Linked DNA regions of Homo sapiens. The protein of the gene in region 1 purifies or fractionates together with the protein of each later gene. This does not show direct contact. Each region holds a gene or a part of one and is shown on either strand. Other genes may lie near its edges.

The links.
Region 2: the proteins of NMD3 (region 1) and FAM83D purify together in Homo sapiens (affinity purification with mass spectrometry; 2 studies listed by BioGRID and IntAct, with this or other methods). This does not show direct contact.

What each region holds. Positions count from the first base shown.
Region 1 is NC_000003.12:161,245,004-161,252,310, reverse strand, and holds the end of NMD3 (60S ribosomal export protein NMD3), read right to left. Parts: intron 5,976-7,307; coding exon 5,863-5,975; intron 5,054-5,862; coding exon 4,981-5,053; intron 2,858-4,980; coding exon 2,751-2,857; intron 2,056-2,750; coding exon 1,985-2,055; intron 1,532-1,984; coding exon 1,401-1,531; 3' UTR 4-1,400; downstream 1-3. UniProt on the Homo sapiens protein: Acts as an adapter for the XPO1/CRM1-mediated export of the 60S ribosomal subunit.
Region 2 is NC_000020.11:38,950,402-38,953,898, reverse strand, and holds the end of FAM83D (protein FAM83D), read right to left. Parts: intron 2,361-3,497; coding exon 1,379-2,360; 3' UTR 793-1,378; downstream 1-792.

The DNA.
Region 1 (7,307 bases):
CCATTTCAAACACACGAAAAAGGGCAAGAATGGCTTTATTTTCATGCTTTAAAATATCTTGACACGGAAGATGTAAACACAGACCACCAATGAGAACTTGCTTTGGTCAATCTTACCTTTGAAGAACTAGGACAAGCCATTCCTACCAGGCCACCACCAAAGACAGGATATGGCTTTTAGATCCACAATTTTAACAAAATATGCAGACAGAAAAGAAGCCACTATAGAAAATTTAGGACTTTATCCATAATTTCAAAATTGGAAAGTCCAATATTAAAAAAAAGAAAAATGTTCCACACAGTGGCACTTGCTCAATCTCTTTATTTAGTGGCACACATGGAATGAATGAATTAGCTCTTACTTGCGGCATACTTAACAAGTCTGATCTTGCTTATAGAAATTGGATCTTAATACTTCATTCTCAGAATACTTCAAAACGTAAGCCACAGTTTTTCTTTCAAGGATGTGGGAAGCATTCCTCATTCAAATCTGATTAATGGTTTTATAAAGTATGTACCTCATTTTTATTAGCCATTATCTTCATGCTGGATTCTAATATTCTTTTTAATGGTGATCTGTTCAATGACAGAAACTTATAGAGAGAAAATTCCTTCTCAATTTATAAACAAAAATTTTAAAAGCAGCATTTTTGATGTGGTAGGAAGATATTTATGACAAAAGCAGCTACTGCCCTAAACTGGCAAAAACAACAAAAGAACAAATTGTTATTTAACCTTTAAATAACGAGTCTCTATTTGCTATAAATCTACAAATATTTTAAATATATTTCCTCCTACTGCAATAAAAATTAAGATAACTCTCTGTTTAACGGCTTTTGAAGAGTTAATTTTATAAGGAAATAAAAAAGATTGACTTGCCTCCTGAATGTCCAGTGATAAACTGAACCCTAATTTCCCTACCTCAACAACATAAAAATGATGTAAAGTGGATCAAAGTATGTAACAAGTTAATATTAAAAATGCTTCTTCATATGGTCTTTCACTAAAATAATCAACGTAAAAATAATGTAAAAATGTGTTTTTGCTTGAAGATTTAGTGAACGTTCAAGGAATCACAATTTTTGAGCTTTTACATCCAGAGTACTATACTATGTGAAAATACTACAGTGCCTCATATAAAAAAGCACAGTGATAAAATTCCAAATGTAAAATTGCCAAAAATCAATAACAACTACATTCTCCATAATCTTTCCTTATCTAAAACCTCAAAGCTATCCATCTGTTTTAGTGGTTTGAGTGAGCACTGAAAACAAACATGTTTATTCAGGTTTAAAACTAAATTTCTCCTCTTGAAATCTGGAGGCAAAGATAGTAGAGACACTTAAGGTAACTCTGTCCAACTTCTTAAGCCCATGTATGGAAACAGTCTACAACATCTCATTATGTCAGCATTGATGCACCTTCTTCACCAGTGGCATCTTGGGAAATATGAAGGTCTTCAAGCATCTCAGCCAGACTAATTCGAGGTGCTCCTTCATCATCGGTGTCACTTTCCACAGGGATGGCTGAATCTAAAAAAATACAAAGAGAATAAAATAAATACAAAGTATTTATATGTATACAAAGTATTAAATATATTTGAAAATATACAAATATCTACCTTATCATTATTATTATGTAACTACATTGTATCAGAAGCTCTTGTCTCTTACAGCAGTCATTCAAATTACATTCACTGAACAAATGAACTGAGTAACTGTAAGAATATACTTCCACCACTATAGGAGTGAGCAACTTAAGGGATCAAGCTAGAATGCAAATAATACTAACTGTAATATACAAAACAGTATTTTGTTAAGTTTTATTTATTGTTTTGCAAGTTTTTTTGTAGAAGTGTGACTAGAGTAGTTGAAAAAACAATTAAAGACATTTATGAGAATCAAAGCTTAAGATACCAAAATATTCATACTAGGAACTATACTTATATACAGAACAAATGACTTAAACACTCCTAGAACACCAACCTCTGTAAATGTTGACATTTTTTCGAATTGCCTCATCTTCTTCAAGATCTTCAAGAAAATCTTGGTATTGCCTTTAAATAAACATTTAAATATTTCATCACCAAAAATATAGTTATATTTTCTTCATTTAAGGACTTTCATTTTAAGGACTATGTAGACATACTGCTGTTTCCAACTCACATTTCATGAAACAATTTTATATAAACTCTCAGTTTTTTTAGACATCGGTGTCTTCACCATCATTAAAGCCACTTTTTGAATCATCCAATAAACTGTTTTAGAACACTGTCTTCATTTCTGCTTAAATTATTTGAGGAATAACACACTTGGCATCAATGAGCTGTTTCCTTTTTATCTCAAGCCATAAGTACTCATCTGCTATTTGTGATATTCATAATGTAATTATTTATTATAAAGTCATGTGCCACATATTCTATGATGCTCACACAACAAAATCACCTAATGATGCATTTCTCAGAAGGTATGCCCATTGTTAAGCAAAGTATGATTATATTTTAACTTTTCAAATGAATTGTTTACATTAACACTACAATTATTAGGTCATAAACCAGGAAATAATTACTAAATCTGTGTTAAATGTCTTTACATCATCTTATACTGATTCCATTAATACCTTGATAAGAATCCAAGATTATAATTGAGTGCAAGGATCAATTGTGTGATGCCTATTTCTTTACAACATAAAAAGTATTTATCATAAATATTTCCTTTGAGACAACATAAGAGATTTAAAGAAAAGCGAGACCTTTCATCATCTGTATCCATGTTTTCTCTCTCTCTTGCAAGCTCTTTCAATTTCCAGTTTCTACGACGCTGACGTTTGGTCCGGTCATAGCTCTTCTTGATTAATACCTGCAAGATAAATATTTGTAAAGTTACAAAGAATGGGAACTATACAGTGAGGCCACAAAATTCAATAAAGCTAAAAAATGACCAAACTAATGACACTGGTTACACCTCAGGAGAAAGGAGAAGGGATGGAGAGACAGTGTCAAGAGGACTTTTAAAATTTTTCTCCATGTATTTAACTTTTTATGAGAATGGATTCAAGCATTATTTGTACAATTGTTAAAATTTGCTAAAATTTTTCAGTGACTGAATACTGTTTTTCTTAATAACAAAAACTGTAGTTTTCTTTTAACTCAAACTTCAGTTTTCAGCTACCATTCATATAAATCATTCTGAATATCACAAGTAGATACTTTTTTTCTCTTATACCCACCAATAAGCATTTACAGAACTATATATAACTTTCACAACAATGTATCTTAGAACGCTTGTTTAATAAATTATAGAATGAAAATAATTTTACAAAATACAAAATATTGTAAGATTGCCATGATCTCCTCTTATGACCTTGTTAGAAATACCTATTTAGACTTACACTCCAACCACGCTGTTAATTCCTAATTTATCAACTAATAAAAGTACAACTGGGCAGGTGGTCGGAGTCCTTGATTTGTCATGGCTCTACTTTTTTTGCTCACTGCTAAAGAAATCAATGTTTATTCTAAAAGATTAAGCAAGTATAGAAGACAGGGTCTTTCACACTAATTTCATTCAGTTTCTCATGATTCTTAACCTCATCATGTTAGAACTTAACAGATTTTTCAGAATTAATAGTTTTTTTCCAAGGCTTGATACTGTGAAGATTATTTTTCACGGATATTTTATTCAGCTTTGAATAACAGCCTTAACTCTAAATGCCTTCTTAACTGAACAATGTATGTGAAACGAAGTGAGCCTAATAAAAATGAACCTGAAAAAATGCTAAATGTCATCATTTTTAGCTGCAAATTTATTTATTTATCTTTTGGAGACGGAATCTTGCTCTATCACCCAGGCTGGAATGCAGTGGCATGATCTTGGCTCACTGCAACCTCCACTTCCCAGGTTCAAGCAATTCTCCTGCCTCAGCCTCCTAAGTAGCTGGGACTACAGGTGCATGCCACCACGCCTGGCTAATTTTTTGTATTTTAGTAAAGATGGGGTTTCACTGTGTTTTCCAGGCTGGTCTCGAACTCCTAAGCTCAAGCAATCCACCCACCTCAGCCTCCCAGAGTGCTAGGATTACAGGCATGAGCCACCGCACCCGGCTAAATTTATTTTTGCTCTACAGATAATATCAGGTATTTTGATCGAGAATGAAAATGTGATTAGAAAAGGAACAATCACAATAAATCTTGGATTTACCCCACCAAGAAAAATTATTTAAAATGAAGCCAGGCATGATAGGTGACACCTGTAATCCCAGCTACTTGAGAGGCTGAGGTGGGAGGATCACTTGAAGCCAGGAGTTCGAGACCAGCCTGAGCAACATAACAAGACCCCGTCTCTACAAAACGTGTTTTAAACATTAGCTGGGAGTGGTGGCATGTGCCTGTAGTCTCAGCTACTCAGGAGGCTGAGGTGGGAGGATTACTTGAGCTCAGAATTTTGAGCTGCAGTGAGTGATCATGACACTGCACGCAAGCCTGGTCAATAAAGCAAGACTCCCATTTCTTTTTTTTTTTTTTGAGACTGAGTTTTGTTCTTGTTGCCCAGCCTGGAGTGCAACGGCGCAATCTCAGCTTACCACAACCTCCACCTCCTCGGTTCAGGCAATTCTCCTACCTCAGCCTCCCAAGTAGCTGGGATTACAAGCTTGCACTACCACGCCTGGCTAATTTTTTTGTATTTTTAATAGAGACAGGGTTTCTCCATGTTGGTCAGGCTGGTCTCGAACTCCCAACCTCAGGTGATCCACCTGCCTAGGCCTCCCAAAGTGCTGGGATTACAGGCTTGAGCCACTGCACCCAGCCTCCTGTTTCTTTAAAAAAAAAAAAAAAAAATTTTGCTATTATACCTTATCTGCAGTTTCAGAAATCTCTAAATTGATTTGTTATTTTCAAAAGTGTGAACTCCTACCTCTTACCCCTAAGAGTTACATTCATCCTCTTTAACACAGGAAAAAAGGGAAAAATCTAAAGCCTTACCACATCTGGAACTCTATCTGAGTTCATTTTGTTGACATGCTCATCATTTAAGTTACAGTTGGCCAAATCAAACCTGAAATGTAAACAATGAAAAACTTAGTGACCATTTACCCTTTGTGTGTAACTTTTTATTTTATGGCTATCACCTAAAACTTCCTAAAAATCAAACATTTAATATGCTTCTCACTTTAAAAGTTCTGTCATTTATTACACAATGAACATGCTTCTGTAGATGCTGGTAAAGACAATAAGGAACTCTGAGTTTCACTTATAATCAATTATTGTCCACCTTGCCATACATTTGTAAAAGCAAAACAGACTTACATATCAGTCCAACTTTAGAATTCAATTAGTTGCTTCCTTCTAGTTTATTTTAAACAAACAAACAAAAAAAAAACACCTCATTCTGTAGTAAAAGAAACTGAAATCCTAAAAGCAAAAGCAATATTTGAGGGTTTAATCACACACTCACTGAAAAACTCTGATTCAGAAAGAACTGATCTATGCCTTTACAAGCCCTTTGTATATATATAGTTGTCATATCTTAAAAGTGAGTTATCTGAGCAGTAGCAACTGCACAATAAAAAAGACCCAATCTGCAAAAGCAGTTCTAAATATGGATACAACCATATAACTTCAAGGCTCAATTAACAAAATCTTACAACAAATTACTCTTTAAGATTATAACCAAAATGGAGTAACTATGGGCTTCTGTCCAACCCAGTTTAATTTAGTTATCAACAATAAAATGAGTTATAAGGCTCCTAAGAACCCTTCGATCTTTTTAGAATAAACAATGTTAGTATTTTTAGGTAGTTTTGCTGGTTCCCAAAGAAAATTTGCAATCCTAATTGGCAGTTTAAAATATGAAATAATACAAACCCTAACACCAGGTCTCCGGGATTTAGAAGATGTCCCAAATGAGTACGACAAAAATACTGTTTATCTGTATTCATTTCAGATGTCTTCTGTACCCAGACTTCCCCGAGGGTATGCTTAAGAGGAAAGAAAATGTACTCTTCAATAATCTAAACATAACTCTAAAAGCATCTCAGAGAAAAGTTAAATACAATATTGATTTTTGGTTTTCTAATTTTTAAAGACAGAAAATTTTTTGTATTTTTCTGATGTATGAAACACTGTCAAAATTAACAAATTACTGAATCATGAGTATAGAAAGACTCACAAACAATTCATAAAAATAAATCATTGACTTTTTCTAAGATTTTATTCAAGACTTTTATAAAACATTAATAATGTCCCTAAAAATATATATATGTAGAATTTTCAAAAGAAATGTTTTCACAGGAAGATGGGCCAACATAGGCAGAGTGAACAAAATAACTGAAAAGGTAGGGGAATCTTAAAGCAAGAACGTATTCCAAGCAAACTCTTGCTTGACACAAGGGTTCAGAAAATCAGGGTCCAGACAAAACAGCCTAGAAATCCTGGTAGTAAACCACTAGAGAGGCCAAATCTTTATCAAATTAATTTTTAAAGTATCTACTAGTGTAGACTACAATCATTCTCTACATCTGCTATATATAATATAGTACATCTGCTATATATAATATATATATAGCAGAAACAACATCCCAATTTTTAAACTAGAAAACTATTAATTCCCTTTCTAACATGCCAACACCTTTAACAACAAAGACAGACCAACTGAAGTGAGATCGAGAGAAAAATACTAAGAGTTATAAATAAAATTAAGGAATCTCAAAATAAAGTTATGAAAAGAATCAAGTGTTTCTTATTGCAGTTGGTCAAAGAAAAAGAAATGAAAAAAATGAAAAGAAATAGAGCAGAAGGAGAAACTGAAATAAAAGACAAGTCTCAAACTTAAGAACTGCAAAAGAAAAGTCAATTAACAGGGAGACTACATTTTATTTAACAGGATTTACTTTCTAGCTATTAGACTTCTGCTTGTAAGAAATTTATTAACCTCTTCTAGCTATTTTTTAAAAACCAAGAAAATACAGTATCTGGTTTTATATCTGCCTGAAGGGAAATGATACTCTACATTTATTATAAATGAAAAGTTTGCCCTAAGTACATTACCTTAATTTATAAATAAAATGTAGAATGTCATCTGTCTTCCATTTCCATTAATTTTTCCCAAATTATCACAAGTTATTTTTGTCTCAAGAAGCATTATTAGCACGCACACACACACACACACACAAGGGTACCCTGGGAGTCTCTAGATACTATTTCACAGTAAAAGAAGCCAGACTTTCATCTTTGAAGAAACATTTGATTTCAGATATGGGTTATAAACTATACATGTGATTCTGGAACACCTGAATGCTGTGTTGCACCAG
Region 2 (3,497 bases), on another chromosome or scaffold:
TTTATAGCCACAGATTACAGCACTAACCCAGCAAATAGCCTGACCATCATAAGGAAGTCCTGGCACACGCGTGAGTGTAGGGACACTCATGATACAAGTGCATCAGCATTTTATGTGGCAGACACCTTCCCCTGTTATAGATCTTTTTTGCTGTAGCTAAGTCAGGAGAGGGAGGAAGGCATCATTTAACTCTCTTCCCTTTTGTCTGTCCATGAGAATGAGACAAAAACAGGATTCCACAGCCATACCAATCCTGATTAGAAGGATGTAGAAACCATTACACTGCCTGCCACTGGACCAGGAAACTGGGATAATTGTCAGTGTCCTCTTTTGCCCCTACTCTGGGATATTAGATGGCTAAATCACTGTCAATACACCCAGCTGATGAAATGAGGCCCATGGGGCCACCAGAGTTAATATTGGGAATGAATATAGGAACATACACTAACGCCTCCTTTGGTAGACAAGCAGAGTACCAGAGTACCAAGGACCTACTGAAATAGCTCAGGCTTTTTCTTCGAAAAGAGAAAAGGCAGAGCATGTGCAAAGGCCTGCTATTTCTGGCCAGTTTCCTCACTTAAACTATAGAGTAACATCAATATTCATGATGCTGAGGAAGGTTAAGTGGATCTATTTTCTCTTCTATAGTTTGGATCATCTACTTCTTCCTCACCCTGACACTATTTAAAAAACCTTCAGATATAGATATCTATATACCTATATCTATTAGGTGCATTAATTTGTGACATACTCCCAGATTTAAAGAGAAAAGTGTCAGAGGGGGGGAAAAAGTACAGAAGCACAAGTTTATATTTATTTAATGCTAAGAACACAGATATTCTAAAGAGATAAACAGAAAGTAGTTTTATTTTTTCTAAATAGGATTTTGATCACAAAAATGCTGGTGATTCAAACCTTTAAAACAGAAGAGCATACAACCTAAGAAAAATGCAAAACAGGCTACAAACCTGTACATCATGTTACTGCACTGAATACTGTAGGCAACTGTAACATAATGGTATTTGTATCTAAACACAGAAAAGGTATAGTAAAAATACAGTATTATAATCTTATGAGACTGCCAACATATACGTGGTCTGTCATTGACCAAAACATCATTATGTAGTGCATGACTATTAAAATTGTGCAAAACAAACCCCTGTATCCATAGTGTTTAAACCATAAAACCAATACCTGGTATATACATGACAAAACAAAGCATGTAAAATAATATGCAGCCTAAAGAATTCAAAGACAACAAAGGTGACAAAGTCAGGTAAAAGAAAGGCAATTAGGGACATAAGATATTTTTTAAAGCAGGAAGCTGATGATGTCCACTGTAAGCCTGGAAGAAACCAGGAGTCTGAACACGGAGCAGTTACTGATAGGAAGGATAAAGTGCTACATCTCTAACAGCAAGCAAATTAACTCTGCTGAAATTGCCAGAATGAAGGCCAAGGTGGTTTTCAGTAAAGAGTGTTCTCCTTGACAGCATAGCCAGCATGTGGTTGAGCCGGGACCTGATACCAGCGAAGTGGAATTGCCGCTCTTTGTTCAAGTTTCTAAGTGAGTCACTCAAGTACAGTTCCAGGTGGGGGGTGCCCAGGTACTTGGGATAGCCAGGATTGTGGAAGTCAGTGGTTCTGATGGAAGCGGGAGAACCAGTGGAGCTTGCCACAGAGCCTTGGGAAGACACAGAGGAGGAAGACTTCAAACTGGAAGATCTCGATACAGACATTTTTGAGACTGGTGACCCTTCTGTAGATTGAGTTCCTCGAGGAAAGAGAATGTTCTCATCCATGTCAGTCTGAGTAGTGGTCGATCTGGACCAAATCGTGGTTTGAGAGCTTGCTATCCTGGTGATGACTGCAGTCTGGGTACCAGCACATGCTGTGGTGATGCTGGTTTGTGTTCCCACCTCACTCACACTCAGCCCTGGCATCTCCTCTCCTGGCTCTGTTTGAGTGGCAGCGTCAATGGCCTTTCTGCTCTGGAGCTCGTCCCTGTGGCTGCTGAAGTAGTCTTCCTCACTAACAGTAGAGGACTCACAGTCATGGGGCTTGCGCTCTGCCTTGCCCTCTGCGGGCATCTCTGGGTCCAGGTCCGCCTTCCTGGGAGTACTTGACAGCCTAGCCAGCCGCATCCGCAGCAGGTTGCCCAGGGTGAGCTCCTTGGACTGTGGTTTTCGGTTGGTGAGGTGATCAAACTTGTTGCTGCTCTGGAAGTGAGACAGGAGTTTGGGGCTGATGGGCTTGGACTGGGCATACAGGATTCGGAACTCCAGATCAAAGTGTTCAACCACTTGGCCAGACAGAATTACCAAGTTACTGCTGTTTAATTTGCCATCCGTCCATGTAAAACTTAAAGATTAAAAAGAAACAAACAGCAGCTGGTAAGGATGAGCAATTTTGTTTTACTCACTGTCCATCTGAATAATATAGTACAGGTATCTTACCACATAAGGGTCACAAATTTGGTGATATCATACCTACCATTTGCATGTATTTAACTAGCCTTAACACATATATAACATTTATGTGTGTTACCATAAAAGTAAAAAGGCCAACTGTTTAACAAACACACTAAATGCTCAGCCTCAGAGGGTTTTTTTGTTTGTTTGTTTGTTTTGAGACGGGGTCTTGCTATGTTGCTCAGGCTGGTCTTGAACTCCTCGGCTCAGGCAGTCCTCCCACCTCATCCTTCCAAAGTGCTAGGATTACAGGTGTGAGCCACCTCACCTGGTCCTTGCCTCAGAGTTTTTAAAAACTGGAAAGGGGGCCAGGCGCGGTGGCTCATGACTGTAATCCCAGCACTTTGAGAGGATGAAGTGGGCAGATCCTTTGAGGTCAGGAGTTCAAGACCAACCTGGCCAACATGGTGAAACCCTGTCTCCAGTAAAAACACATAAAAAATTAGCCAGGCGTGGTGGTGCATGACTGTAATCCTAGCTACTCGGGAGGCTGAGGTGGGAGGATTGTTTGAACCCCGGAGGCAGAGGTTGCGGTAAGCTGAGGTCACACCACTGCACATTCCATGACTGGGCGAGATTCCATGACTGGGCGAGACTCCATCTCAAAAAATTAATTAAAAATAAAAAATAGGGCTTCTAAATATTTAGGCCAGCATCCCCATTTTAAAGGTAAGAAAACTATTTAGGCCAGCACCCCCATCTTAAAGGTAAGGAAACCAGATAAAGGGATTATCACAGAGGGGAGCTACTGCTGGACTCCAGATCAGACCCTAGGCCCTATGAATTGCTAATGCCCTGCTCCTTGCTACTGTTTGAGTGGCAACATCAGTGGCCTTCCTGCCCTCAAGCTTGTCCTTGTGGCTGCTGAAGTAGTCTTCCTCACTAACAGTGGAGGACCCACAGTCATGGGGCTGTGCTGCCATTTTCACAAAACACCATGGCTCAAAACATTTTAGAGCTGATTAGTGGCCATGTGCCCTTGCCTGTACGGTGTCCCTTCCCCGCCTCCCTCCTCTGCTAGCAGAAC